Homo sapiens: one gene and its partners. The protein of the gene in region 1 purifies or fractionates together with the protein of each later gene. This does not show direct contact. Each region holds a gene or a part of one and is shown in the gene's direction. Other genes may lie near its edges. The genes, in order: NPIPB6, CDCA2, RGPD8 and RGPD1.

Region 1 (3,572 bases):
TGTATTTTTAGTAGAGACGGGGTTTCACCATGTTGCCCAGGATGGTCTCCATCTCTTGACCTTGTGATTCACCCGCCTCAGCCTCCCAAAGTGCTGGGATTACAGGCGTGAGCTACCGCACCTGGGCTCTTTTTTTTTTTTTTTTTTTTTTTTTGAGACAGAGTTTCAATTTTGTTGCCCAGGTTTGGAGTGCAATGGCACAATCTCAGCTCACCACAACCTTTTCCTGCTGGGTTCAAGTGATTCTCCTGCCTCAGCCTCCTGACTAGCTGGGACTACAGGCATGCACCACCATGCCTGGTTAATTTTGTATTTTTAGCAGAGACAGCGTTTCTCCATGTTGGTGAGGCTGGTCTCAAACTCCCGACCTCAGGTGATCCGCCTGCCTCGGCCTCCCAAAGTGCTGGGATTACAGGAGTGAGCCACCGTGCCAGCCTCATGTCATTCTTGTGTGTGTGTGTGTGTGTGTGTGTGTGTGTGTGTGTGTGTGTGTGTGACAGAGTCTCATTCTGTCGCTCAGGCTGGAGTGCAGTGGTGTGATCTCGGCTCACTGCAACCTCCGCCTCCCAGCTTCAAATGGTTCTCTGCCTCAGCCTCCCGAGTAGCTTGGATTACAGGCGCCCGCTGCCATGCCTGGCTAATTTTTGTATTTTTAGTAGAGACAGGGTTTCACCATCTTGGCCAGGCTGGTCTTGAACTCCTGACCCCGTGATCCACCTGCCTCGGCCTCCCAAAGTACTGGGATTATTTATACGCATGAGCCACCGTGCCCAGCCGTCATTCTTATATTATTATTTCCTAGGTGTCTTTCCTGAAGACTATCTTCTGGTCTCGAAATGGACATGATGGATCCATGGATGTACAGCAGAGAGCCTGGAGGTCCAACCGCAGTAGACAGAAAGGTATGGCTCTGTTGGAGTCCCCATAGTGTGGAAATGAGTTTGCCCTGGAAAGGGAAAGAACAGCTTCTTGACCTCAGGTTTCTCACCTTCTCCTCTCCTCACTCTCACCAAGGGCTGAGGTCCATTTGTATGCACACAAAGAAAAGAGTTTCTTCCTTTCGAGGAAATAAAATTGGCCTGAAAGACGTCATTACTCTACGGAGGCATGTGGAAACAAAAGTTAGAGCTAAAATCCGTAAGAGGAAGGTGACAACGAAAATCAACCGTCATGACAAAATCAATGGAAAGAGGAAGACCGCCAGAAAACAGTAAGATGTGCCTTGACACAAATACTGTTGTATGAACCATGTGCCAATCAAAGTAGACAACTGTAAAGTCCTTGAGAATATTTTCTACAATATTTGTGGCAAATTCAGTGGGCTCAAAATTGAGTTTGTCCTTTCTGCTTCATTAGTTTAAGCTGTATAATTCCTTTCCCTTCCTACATTCTTGTTTGTAATTTTTTCGGGGGAAGAGGAGTTGCTAGTACTGGCATTGGTTTTCCTTTCTCTCTCTCTTTTTTTTTTTCCTGAGATGGAGCTTTGCTGTTGTTGCCCAGGCTGTAGTGCAATGGCACAATCTCAGCTCACTGCCTTTTGGCTTCAAGCAATTCTCCTGCCTCAGCCTCCCAAGTAGCTGGGATTACAGGTGCCCACCACCACGCCCAGCTAATTTTTGTATTTTTACTAGAGATGGGGTTTCACCATGTTGTCCAGGCTGGTCTCGAACTTCTGACCTCAGGTAATCCACCTGCCTCAGCCTCCCAAAGTGCTGGGATTAGAGGTGTGAGCCACCACACCCAGCCTTTTTTTTTTTTTTTTAAAATTTTGAGATAGAATCTCGCTCTGTCGCCCTGGCTGGAGTGCTATGGTGCAATCTTGGCTCACTGCAACCTCTGCCTCCCAGTTTGAAGCAATTCTGCCTCAGCTTCCTGAGTAGCTTGGATTACAGGTGTGTGCCACCACATTCGGCCAATTTTTTTTTTTTTTTTTTGAGACAGAGTCTCACTCTGTCACCCAGGCTAGAGTGCAGTGGCATGATCTTGGCTCACTGCAACCTCCACCTCCCAGGTTCAAGTGATTCTTATCCCTCAGCCTCTTGAGTAGCTGGGACTACAGGCATATGCCACCATGCCCGGATAATTTTTGTATTCTTAGTAGAGGCGGGGTTTCACCATATTGGCCAAGCTGGTCTAGAACTCTGGACATCATGATCCACACACCTCGGCCTCCCAATGTGCTGGGATTACAGGCGTGAGCCACCGTGCCCGGCCCAATTTTTGTATTTTTAGTAGAGACAGGGGTTCACCATGTTGGCCAGGCTAGTCTTGAACTCCTGACCTCAGGTGATCTGCCTACCTCAGCCTCCCAGTGTGAGCCACCGCACCCAGCCTGGATTGTTGAATTCAATGCTTGGGTCACCTCCAGATTCATTTTCACAGTCTTTCATGTTTTGGTCATATTACATTGTATTTTGCTGCCATATGACTGAGCTCTTTTTGTTAAATGTGAGATACTTGTTAAAAAATATTTAGCAATGAATTGAGGCCTAGTGGCATGTTATCTTGCTGCAGAAGAGATGGGAGTCTACTTCTGGGGGATGGTCACGGGTCCTCCATACAGGCTGCAATTGAGGTCGTCGGTGCAGGCTCAGTCCCTACAAAGGCCAGGGTATTTCCTGTCCACCTCTATTCTGATGCATGACTCTTCTGGGTCTCAACCAGAGCCAGTGGACTTCAGTACGGGTCGCTTTCATTGGCAGACCCTCAATCCACTTGTTTTCCATCTAATCCCACGCATGTGTGCAAAAGCTGCTGTGCTTCTTTACATCTCAGTAGTTCCTTCTGGAATTCAGCAATGAAACTCAGGGAAATGGGTTCCAAATGCGAGGCTGACTTTCGTCCTGGGTTTCCTTCTTCTCCATCTTCACCTCATGTCTGTTTACTGCCATGTTAGCAATTTGATGTATTCAATCATGGGTTTTATATTCTGTTTGGTGTCCCCCATTGTTCTCATCGGAGATCAGAAGCTTCAGATGCACTTATGTCAACTCAAGAGTAGAATGCTTCCTTAGCTTCCCTCCAGAGTCAGGTTTTGTGTTTCTAGTTCCCAAGTGGACAGCAGGAGTAGTGATGTCCTCACTGGCTTCTCATTTGCATTAAGCTGTGAGCTTCTTTACCGTGGGGACAGGACCCTGCTCCCATTGCATTCTCAGCACCACACCACACACTCCTTGTTGGAGGCCACTCCAGACAGCATGTGCTGAAGGATGCCCTGTGGTCAGAAACAAGTTCATTAACTTTCTCTTTGAAGTGTTTTCGCCCCTGTTTCCTAGCGTTCTGGGAATTTTACACATCCTTCCTATAAAACCAAGTATCAGGTGAGATCCTTAGGATCAGGACCATGAATCAAGTGGTGTGAGGGCAACACAGCAAACTTACCCTTTTTAGGCCATTTCCTTTTTCTGCCCTCAATGTCTGTGAACTGAACCTTGTTAAAGTCAGTCAACACCAGGGTGGATGGTTTGCCGTTGTCACCTATTTTCAGGACATAACACCCTGACTTAGGAGCCATTCCGATCATTTCTAATTCAATAGATGCGCCCAGCATTCAGATTGCCTTTTCTCTCAAC
Region 2 (3,572 bases), on another chromosome or scaffold:
GTTATGATTTGTGCCTGATATCATGGTTTTGAGCCAGAACAATTATTGAAAATAAAGGTAATCTTTAATACTGGAATATCTATCTGCAGTTGACAGAGAATTTCAAAACTGCTGTTCTTAATGATGACGTCTATGTATTTCTATATGTAAAATTATTCATTAATGTTTATTCTGTTTAGGAACACTGTAACAACCTCTATGATGATGATGGGACTCATCCGAGCTTAATCTCAAATCTCCCAAACTGTTGCAAAGAGAAAGAAGCAGGTAAGAAATTCATACTTGTTTTTAAGCTTGAGGATATCATTTTCATGTTAGTAAAACCTAGTATAATATATGAAATTTTCAATGATCTATAATGCCTTAGTGCTTCTGAAATAACACGTGAATGAAGAACAGTTGAGAAGGTTAGAATCTCCTTGGAGAGCCTCAGAATTGGTCTGTCCATTTCATGGATCCATTTTTACTTAGTGGTGGTATTTGTAAAGAAAATTTATATTTCAATTTTATTAACGTTTAATATGCAAATTTTTACTTGGAAATCTGTTGCCATATTTTAATTGGAAATGTGCTTATCTTCTCCATTTTGAATTTGCTCTACCAACAATTATTTTATAGCTTTGCTTTACTAGCTATTATACAAATAATAGCTGAATATTATCACATTAAAAGATTCTAGTATATGCCTTTTAGATAAGAAATATAGCTTAATTTTTAAGTTACTCTCATTTATTGTCTAATTATAGAAGATGAAGAAAATTTTGAAGCACCTGCCTTTCTAAATATGAGGAAGAGGAAGAGAGTTACTTTTGGAGAGGACTTAAGCCCGGAAGTGTTTGATGAATCTTTGCCAGCAAATACTCCATTGCGTAAAGGAGGAACACCTGTTTGTAAAAAAGACTTCAGTGGTCTCAGTTCCCTGCTGCTTGAGCAGTCACCTGTTCCTGAGCCATTACCTCAACCAGATTTTGATGACAAGGGGGAGAATCTTGTAAGTATGAAAAGCGTGGAACAAGCTTGCCATATGTATTTTCATCAGGCTTCACCTGCTTTGCATGAGCAATAACTATGCTTTGAAATAATGAGATAGACTAAATGATATGCCATGGTTTAAATTAATCTATTTTGTATGTAGGTTTTTATGAGTTTTTGCCCATTACAAATAATACTTCCCTGACTCCTTGTACATATTGAACAGATTTATGCCAATGAATTTAACAACTTAGGTAAACTGGATACATTCCTTAGAAGACACAAATTACCAAAACTCACTAAAGGTGAAATAAATTACCTCATTATCCCTATATCAACTTAAGATATTTAAATTTTAGTTAAAACCTTCCCACAGAGAAAACTCTAGGTATAGATGATTTTTTTTTTTTTTTTTTTTGAGATAGGGTCTTACTCTGTCACCCAAGCTGGAGTGCAGTGGTGCGGTCATGGCTCACTGCAGCCTCAACCTCCCAGGCTCAAGCTATCCTCCCATATCCTCCCGTCTTAGCCTCCCGAGTAGCTGGGACATGGGCACACATCACCATGCCTGGCTAGTTTTTGATGATTTTACTGATGAATACTACCAAACACTTGAGCAAGTTAAAATACTAATTCTACACAAGTGTTTCCACAAATTGAAGGGGTAGGTTAATTGATGTCAGCATTGTGATTTCAGCATTAACCTGGTGCAAAATCAGACAGGCATTATAAGAGAAGAAAACTACAGTTCAGTATCCTTGTAAACATAGCAATATATAAAAAGATAATACATCATAACCATGTGAGATTTAGCCTTGGGCTGCAAAGCCATTTAATGTTTGAAAAACAATCAGTGTAATCTGCCTTGTTAAAAGACTAAGACAGAAATACGATCATCTGAGTAGTTGCAGAAAAAGCAGCACACCAACATGGCACGTGTATACATAACAAACCTGCATGTTGTGCACATGCACCCTAAAACTTAAAGTATAATAATAATAATAATAATAATAATAATAAAGAAAAAGCATTTAACAAAATATAGTATCCACTTCTCATTTAAAAAATAAAACCTCTGAGCAAAATGGTAATAAAAGAATTTCTTCAAATTGACTAATGTCTATGCAAAACCAACAGTTAATGTCTTACCAACAATTATGTGGAAAAGATTTGCTATCTGTATTTATATTGCCATCTTACTCTGGAGTTCCCTGAATAACATTATAACGTTAGATTGTGTTTATGAATGAATTTTTAAATTTTCTTTATAGGAGTTAGAAATTTAGCAGTAGATCATTATGTGTACTTTCGCTTATAAATTTTCTTAGTAGTTTGATGGATTGCAGTTAGTAAGCATTTCATTGCAAACATGATTGGTAAATGGTATACATATATTTTTCTATTCAATATCTTTGTTTTGCTTTGAATTTTAGAATCTTTTATTGATTACCCATCTTTATGCTTATTATAGTTTCTCCTACCAAAATAAATTCTTACTCTTCTTTTGGGCACATTATGTATTCACTGCATTTAAAGATATCTAACTTCTGTCTTTTCCTTTGTTTAGGAAAACATAGAACCACTTCAAGTATCATTTGCCGTTCTCAGTTCTCCTAATAAATCATCAATCTCTGAGACCCTTTCAGGTAGTAACTTGTTTATCTTAAAATCATAAATGTCATTTTTTATATGTGTATATGTTGATTATTTTTGTTTTCTTTTAAAAATTTCATATTTGTTACCACAACATATACTTGGTTTAAAAACACCTAATAGTATTGGGAAGCTGACATGAAGCTATTCATCCATCCCTTTTCCATTCCAAGCCTCATACTTCATAATCACCCAGAATTTACTTCCTCAGATGGAATCCCCATTTTGTTAGTTGCTAGAAGCAATGGAGTTAGCCTCTCAACTCTTAAGTATCAATGACAAACTGCTATTCACAGTTTACAGAATTGACATCTGGATTGTAAGGATCATTCTTAAATATCCAGACTTTTTCCTCAACATTCATTGTGGCGTTTTTAGCACATGTGCTTTCCAAGGTCTCTGGATTTTTTATGATTATGACAAAGCAACAGATTGCTCCCAGCTTTTCTGACAAACCAGGACTTAGCTGGCAGGTGTCATGGGCCAGGCACCTTTATTCAGGTGTCTTCCCTGGCGGAAACCCCTTAATGGCTTCTTGTTGACACAAACCAAACCTAGTAGACTCCAAGCCATGTGTTACTAAGTTAGAGCTAAAATTTGAATCACAGTCTATCACATTCCAAAGGCCATACCCTTAAACATATTATACCACCTTTCATTTATATCATTAAAAGTCTGCCAGGTGCGGTGGCTCATGCCTGTAATCCCTTTACTTTGGGAGGCTAAGGCAGGCAGATCACTTGAGGTCAGGAGTTCAAGACCAGCCTGGTCAACTTGGTGAAACCTGGTCTCTACTGAAAATACAAAAAAAAAAAAAAAAATTAGCCAGGCATGGTAGCGGGTGCCTATAATCTCAGCTACTCAGGAGGCTGAGGCAGAAGAATCACTTGAACCGGGGAGACGGAGGTTGCAGTGAGCTGAGATTGCACCACTGCACTCCAGCCTGG
Region 3 (3,572 bases), on another chromosome or scaffold:
ATTTTTCTATTATGTTTTGGCATTGTACCTTGAATCTATTTCTTCATTTTGAAAAGGGGGAACTGGCCGGGCTCGGTGGCTGATGCCTGTAATCCCAGCACTTTGGGAGGCGGAAGAAGTCAGATCACAAGGTCGAGAGATCGACACCATCTTGGCCAACATGGTGAAACCCCATCTCTACTGAAAATACAAAAATTAGCTGGGCATGGTGGCGTGCGCCTGTAGTCCCAGCTTGTACCCGGGACGCAGAGGTTGCAGTGAGCTGAGATCGAGCCACCGCACTCCAGCCTGGCGACAGAGCAAGACTCCATCTCAAAAAAAAAAAAAAAAAGGAAGGGGGGAACAGGACTTGTTCCTTTATGTGCTGTCCTGACTGTTGTGTATTATTTTTGTTAAGATTGCTATAGTTCTTTTTTTTTTTGAGACGGAGTCTTGCTCTGTCGCCAGTGCTGGGATTGCAGGTGTTAGCCTGGCATTGAGCAAGGTTTTGTAATTTAAGCATACAAGTCTCTCACCTCCTTGTTTACATTTATTCCCAGGCATTTTTTTCTTTTAGATGCGATTGTAAATGGAATTGCTTTCTTAATTTCATTTTCTGATTGTTCGTTGCTGGTACAGTAGTCCCTTCTTATCCACAGTATTGCCTTACGTGGTTTTACTTACCTGCGTCACCCGTGGTCCAAAAATATTGAATGGAAGATTATATAAATAAACATTTCATGAGTTTTAAATTGCAAACAGGTCTGAATAACATGATAAAAATCTCACGGCCTCCTGCTCCGTCCTACCCAGGACACGAATCATCCCTTTGTCCAACATATTCATGCTGTATGTGCTCCCCACCCGCTAGTTACATACTAGCCACCTCAGTTATCAGATCAGTTGTTGGAGTATTGCAGTGCTTGTGTTCAAGTGACCTTTATTTTATTTAAAATGGCACCAAAGAGCAAGAATAGCGATGCTGGCAGTTCACATATGCCAGAGAGAAGCCATATAGTGCTTCCTTTAAGTGAAGAGGTGAGTTTTTGACTTAGGAAAGAAAAAAGATCATATACTGGGGTTGCTGAGATCTATGGTAAGAACAAATCTTTTGTCCATGAAATTGTGAAGAAGGAAAAAGAAATTTGTGCTAGTTTTGTTGTGACACCCCAAACTGCAAAAGTTACAGCCACAGTGTGTGATAAGTGCTTAGTTGAGATGGACAAGACATTAAATTTGTGGGTGGAGGACACAAACAGGAAACATGTTTCGATTGATGGCAACCTGGTTTGGTACTATTCATCGTTTTGGACATTCACTGGGGTCTTGGAATTTCAAAAATAAGATGTTTGAGTAGCTGTATACTCTATCACATGGATGGAACATACTCTGGTTGTATCAGCATTTTTTTTTTTTTTTTTTTGAGATGGAATCATTCTGTTGCCCAGGTTGGAGTTCAGTGGTGCGATCTTGGCCCACTGCAGCCTCTGCCTCCCGGGTTCAAGTGATTCTTTGCCTCAGCCTCCCAAGCAGCGGGGATTACAGGCGTGTGCCACCATGCCCAGCTAATTTTTGTATTTTTAGTAGAAAGGAGGTTTCTGTATGTTGGCCAGGCTGGTCTCGAACTCTTGGCTTCAAGTGATCCACCCGCCTCAGTCTCCGAAAGTGCTGGGATTACAGGTGTGAGCCACCGCACCCAGCCTGGTGTGCATCAGCATTTTGGACTTTGGAGTTTATGTAACCAAGGATCCAGGCTGTGGACCTCGTTTATTACTTGAAGAATTCAATATTTATTTCTGCCTTTTTGACTCCTTGACTGTAAAATACTGATCTGATCTGTAGAGAGAACAGTACATGGACCCGGGAATCCTCAGTGCCTTAATAGATCCTAAGTACTTATTTATTCTTTCCCATAGAGGCTTACACATGGTAGGAGAAGAGATTTCTGGAATACCTTTCCTCCCCAAAGAAAGCTGGTTTCTTTTGTTTGTTAAGTGAGAGAGTGGTACCACAGGGTTTCCGAGATTTCCAAGGCTGATGAAAATTCTTAACTTCTGTTGTCTGCTTGTCTTGCTTTCTTGAATTTATTTTTTGTATGTTATGTATTTATTATTTAGAGAGAGGATCTCCCTGTGTCACCCAGGCTGGAGTGCAGTGTCACAGTCATAACTCACGGCAGTGTCAACCTCCTGGGCTCAAGTGATTCTCCTTCCTTGGCCTCCTGAGTAGCTAGGAACACAGGCATGCTCCACTATGCCTGGCTATTTTTTTCCCCCTGGAGACAGGATCTTGTTGTGTTGCACAGGCTGGTTTCAAACTCTTGGCCTCAAAGCTAGCCTCCCACCTTGGTCTCTGAAAGTGCTAGAATTAAATAGAATTAAAGGTGTGACCAACTGCACCCAGCTTATTTATGATGATGATGATGATGATGATGATGATGATGTTTGGGAGATGGAGTCTCTGTCGCCCAGGCTGGAGTGCAATGGCACGATCTCAGCTGACTGCAACCTCTGGCTCACTGCAACCTCCACCTCCTGGGTTCAACTGATTTTTGTGCCTTAGCCTCCTGAGTAGCTGGGATTACAGGCACCCGCCATCATGCCTGGCTAATTTTTCTATTTTTGTAGAGACGGGGTTTCACCATGTTAGCCAGGCTGGTCTCAAACTCCTGACCTCAGGTGATCCGCCCACTTCGGCCTCCCAAAGTGCTGGGATTACAGGCATGAGCCGCTGCACCCAGCTCTATTTTTTGTTTTGTGGTAGGAAATTATAAAACATGGAATTATGCATTTGTCAGGCTTTAACTACTTTTGAAAAAATGTTGGAAAATATTTCTGTATGAAACATAAAACAACTTTTAATTTTTTTTTAGAAGTCAATGAAAGGATTCTATTTTGCAAAGCTGTATTATGAAGCTAAAGAATATGATCTTGCTAAAAAGTAAGTACAAACCGTAACATGTATTCTTTTTTTTAAAATCAATGCCTTTTCTCATTTTCTTCTTTGAAATAGGTAAAAATATGTTCTTAGTAGTTCTTCCTAAGTGTATTCTGGAATAAGGGATTTATCACTCAGACTGATGCTAAGGACCAGCCTAGATTCCATTGAGATTGAAACTGCAATTAGTGTTTTCTGCATGCTGCTGCTTTATACCAAGGGCAAGAAATTGTTTGGCTTAAAACACTTTTTCTAAAAATTGTCTTCTGTTGGAGTAAAAGAGGACCATGCCTATATCTTAATTTGTTTTTGGTTAGATATCTGATACCTTAATCAGATGGAAAATAGCAATGAATAAAAAACTAAACTGTAATTGTAAGGCAGGAGAATAGCTTGTATAAAAGATCTTTAATTGACACAATATGTGATGCTGTAAGGCTCTATCCTAGGGATAAGAAGCTTGGTGATTCTGATTTCCTGGCTGGGAGTGGATTAAAGCAGGAAATTAAGAGGGAGGCAGGCTTTTTTTTTTTTTTAGGCAGTATCTGTCTCTCTTGCTCCGGCTGGAGTGCAGCAGCTGGCTCCATCTTTGCTCACTGTAACCTCTGCCTTCTGGGCTCAAGCGATCTTCCCACCTCAGCGCCCCAAGTAGCTGG
Region 4 (3,251 bases), on another chromosome or scaffold:
TTGCATAGCTACCCCCAATGTTAACATAACTGTTAACAAATTATCAAAACTAAGAAATTCGTCTTGGTATAGTATCACTAACTAAACTCCAGACCTCAGTCAGGTTTTCCCAGTCTTTCCTTCAGTGTCCTTCCTCTGTTTCAGGATTCAATCCATGATCCTTGACACTTGGTACTTTGTCAGATGTCCCGCTGTATGGGTTTGTTTGATGTTTTCCCATGATTAGGGATAGACACTGCAAGACTCAGAGCTACTTTACAAAGAAGCCTCTAGGGAGCTCCCCAGAGAAGACAGGGGAGACAACACAAGGACACTAGAGGAAATTTTAGCCTCTGACATCCATGACTATATAGCAAAGAGTAAACAAAGCCTAACTCCTAGCCAGAGAAACACAAAATCTCATACTAAAGCCTTATTTAACTCAGTTCGTTTCACCCAGTACATCATATACAGCCTCAAACAAAAAATTACAAAGCATACTAAAAGACAAGAAACCCCACAGTTTGAAGAGACAGAGCAAGCATCAGAACCAGACTCAGATATGAAAGAAATATCGGAAGTATCCAACCAGGAATTTAAAATAACTAAGATTAACATGCTAGGGGCTCTAATGTAAAAATGGCATAACATGCAAGAACAGATGGGTAATGTAAGCAAAGAGATAAAAACACTAAGAAGAAATAAAGATGAAATACTAGAAATAAAAAACACCATAACAGAAATGAAGAATGCCTTTGATGGGTTCATCAAAAGAATGGATATGGCCAATGAAAGAATCAGTGAGCTCAAAGAGATGTCAATAGATACTTCAAAAGCTGACACACAATGAGAGAAAAGAATGAAAAAGAAAAAACAGAACAAGAGTCAAGAACTGTGAGACAATTACAAAAGGTGGAACATGGAGACTTTTTGGAAATACCAGAAAGAGAAGAAAAAGAGAAAGAAAGCCAGGCATGGTGGCTTACGCCTATAATGCCAGCAATTTGGGAGGCCGAGGCGGGCAGATCGCAAGGTCAGGAGATCGAGACCATCCTGGCTAACACGGTGAAACCCTGTCTCTACTAAAAATACAAAAAATTAGCGGGGCGTGGTGGCAGGCGCCTGTAGTCCCAGCTACTCGGGAGACTGAGGCAGGAGAATGGCATGAACCTGGGAGGAGGAGCTTGCAGTGAGCTGAGATCGTGCCACTGCACTCCAGCCTGGGCAACAGAGCAAGACTCTGTCTCAAAAAAAAAAAAAAAAAAGAGAAAGAAACAGAAGAAACATTTGAAGCAACAGTGACTGAAAATTCCCCCAAATTCATGATAGATAAAGCTATGGTCTGAATGTTTGTGTCTCCTCAAAAGTTATATTGAAACTTAATCCTCAATGTGATAGTACTGAGGTGGGGCTTTTGGGAGTCAATCAGGTTACGAGGGCTCTACCCTCAGGACAGAGATTAGTGCACTTATGAAAGAAGCCCCAGGGAATTAGCTAGCCCCTGACACCATGTGAGGACAAAGCCAGAATGTGTCATCTATGAGGAAGCAGGGCCTCACCAGACACTGCTAGTGCCTTGGTCTTGGACATCACAGCCCCTAGAACGGTGAGAAATAAATTTCTGTTGTTTATAAACTCTCCAGTTTATGATATTTTTGTCACAGCAGCCCAAATGAACTAAGGTAGACATAAAGGAACAGATCCAGGAAGCTCAAAATACATCATTTCAATAATGATCTTTAAAACTTTGTTTGAAATTATACTGATCATTCCGCTGACTGCTGAATGACCTGGCACCGTCTCAGGGTTTTAGTCTGGAGTTTTTGTTTATGCTCATGGCCTCACGGAGAACAATATTCACCTGAAGTGACGGCGCTTCTCTTTTTATGTTGTTGAGAAGCATGATTGGCTCTTTTTTTGCAAAATTATTCACAAACTTAAACTTTGATTCAGAATTATTGAAGTAACATGGTGAGGCAGAGTAATATGTGACTTAAATTTTATGGAGTACTAAGGAAAACGGGCAGACTTAATATAAAAGTGGTGCATTGGTGGTGCTTAAGGGCAAATACCGATAACATGGTGTACAAATAAAGGATCCCGATGATTCAAACAGGTGGAAGTGATGGGAGAACTGAGTTGTCACACAGTACCATATCCACACTGTCACACAAATCTCACCTTTATTTATTCCCTTTTGCACTAACGTAGCCAGAAATGTGAAACGATGACAGTTTTTTCAGTAGGTATTTTTTTTTTTTAGTTTTTATCATTGACCTTTGAGGTGCACTATTAAATTGCTCAGTCCATTAAAATAACGGATTGCTGATTTAAAAACTGGTTCCTTGCTTAGCTTCAGCAAAACAGCAAAGTCTACCACATTAAATGTATATTGTTTATTTGATTTTTATTGACTTTGTTGTCTTATTTTAACTACTTAATTGCAAATCTGTCTTGGGGTTAACACTGTGTAAGAGTTTTAAGCATAAGAAGTCTGTACTTAGAGTTTAGATGTAGTTTTATATTTGTACATGTTGATGTAACATTTTAATAATAATAATTCAGGTCTGCTGGGCATGGTGGCTCATGCCTGTAATCCCAGCACTTTGGGAGGCTGAGGCGGGCGGCTCACCTGAGGTCGAGAGTTCAAGACCAGCCTGACCAACATGGAGAAACCCTGTCTCTACTAAAAATGTAAAATTAGCCAGGCATGGTGGCACATGCATGTAATTCCAGCTACTTGGGAGGCTGAGGTAGGAGAATCGCTTGAACCCGGAGGCGGAGGTTGTGGTGAGCTGAGATCGCACCATTGCACTCTAGCCTGGGCAATGAGAGCAAAATTCTGTCTCAGAAAAAAAAAAAAAATCAGGTTAATTCTGGGATCTGAGCAAAGTTTTGCTCCTTTCCGAGAGGTGAACACGTTACGCAATTATTAATAATATCCCTGTGGGAAGGGGCTTTACAACAAATTATTTTACAGGTGAAGGGCAGAAATGAAAACATTTTCTAGAGCCACTCCTGCCCTTCACACTCAGGAATGTCGCAGTAGTCATCTCTCTGTTCTGGATCAGTAGTATAGCACCAGGGCCCCTGCGCATCGTTGTCTGGATTCCTCCAGTCCCTCTGAGGGGTGTGTAGCAGGTGAGAATCTGGGGAGGATGGAAGAGAAGCACTTAGACTATATTCTAAAAATCAGCTTGCTATTAGCAAGGCAGAAGGAGATGCTCTCGATTCCCATCTGAGATTGTCATCCAAATGCATTTCAGCTGGGT

The links.
Region 2: the proteins of NPIPB6 (region 1) and CDCA2 purify together in Homo sapiens (affinity purification with mass spectrometry; one large-scale study listed by BioGRID and IntAct). This does not show direct contact.
Region 3: the proteins of NPIPB6 (region 1) and RGPD8 purify together in Homo sapiens (affinity purification with mass spectrometry; one large-scale study listed by BioGRID and IntAct). This does not show direct contact.
Region 4: the proteins of NPIPB6 (region 1) and RGPD1 purify together in Homo sapiens (affinity purification with mass spectrometry; one large-scale study listed by BioGRID and IntAct). This does not show direct contact.

What each region holds. Positions count from the first base shown.
Region 1 is NC_000016.10:28,346,472-28,350,043, reverse strand, and holds part of NPIPB6 (nuclear pore complex-interacting protein family member B6), read left to right. Parts: intron 1-802; coding exon 803-902; intron 903-1,014; coding exon 1,015-1,210; intron 1,211-3,572.
Region 2 is NC_000008.11:25,483,220-25,486,791, forward strand, and holds part of CDCA2 (cell division cycle-associated protein 2), read left to right. Parts: intron 1-179; coding exon 180-267; intron 268-746; coding exon 747-991; intron 992-2,539; coding exon 2,540-2,618; intron 2,619-3,572. UniProt on the Homo sapiens protein: Regulator of chromosome structure during mitosis required for condensin-depleted chromosomes to retain their compact architecture through anaphase.
Region 3 is NC_000002.12:112,423,587-112,427,158, reverse strand, and holds part of RGPD8 (RANBP2-like and GRIP domain-containing protein 8), read left to right. Parts: intron 1-2,851; coding exon 2,852-2,919; intron 2,920-3,572.
Region 4 is NC_000002.12:87,008,079-87,011,329, forward strand, and holds part of RGPD1 (RANBP2-like and GRIP domain-containing protein 1), read left to right. Parts: intron 1-2,145; exon of another isoform or gene 2,146-3,251.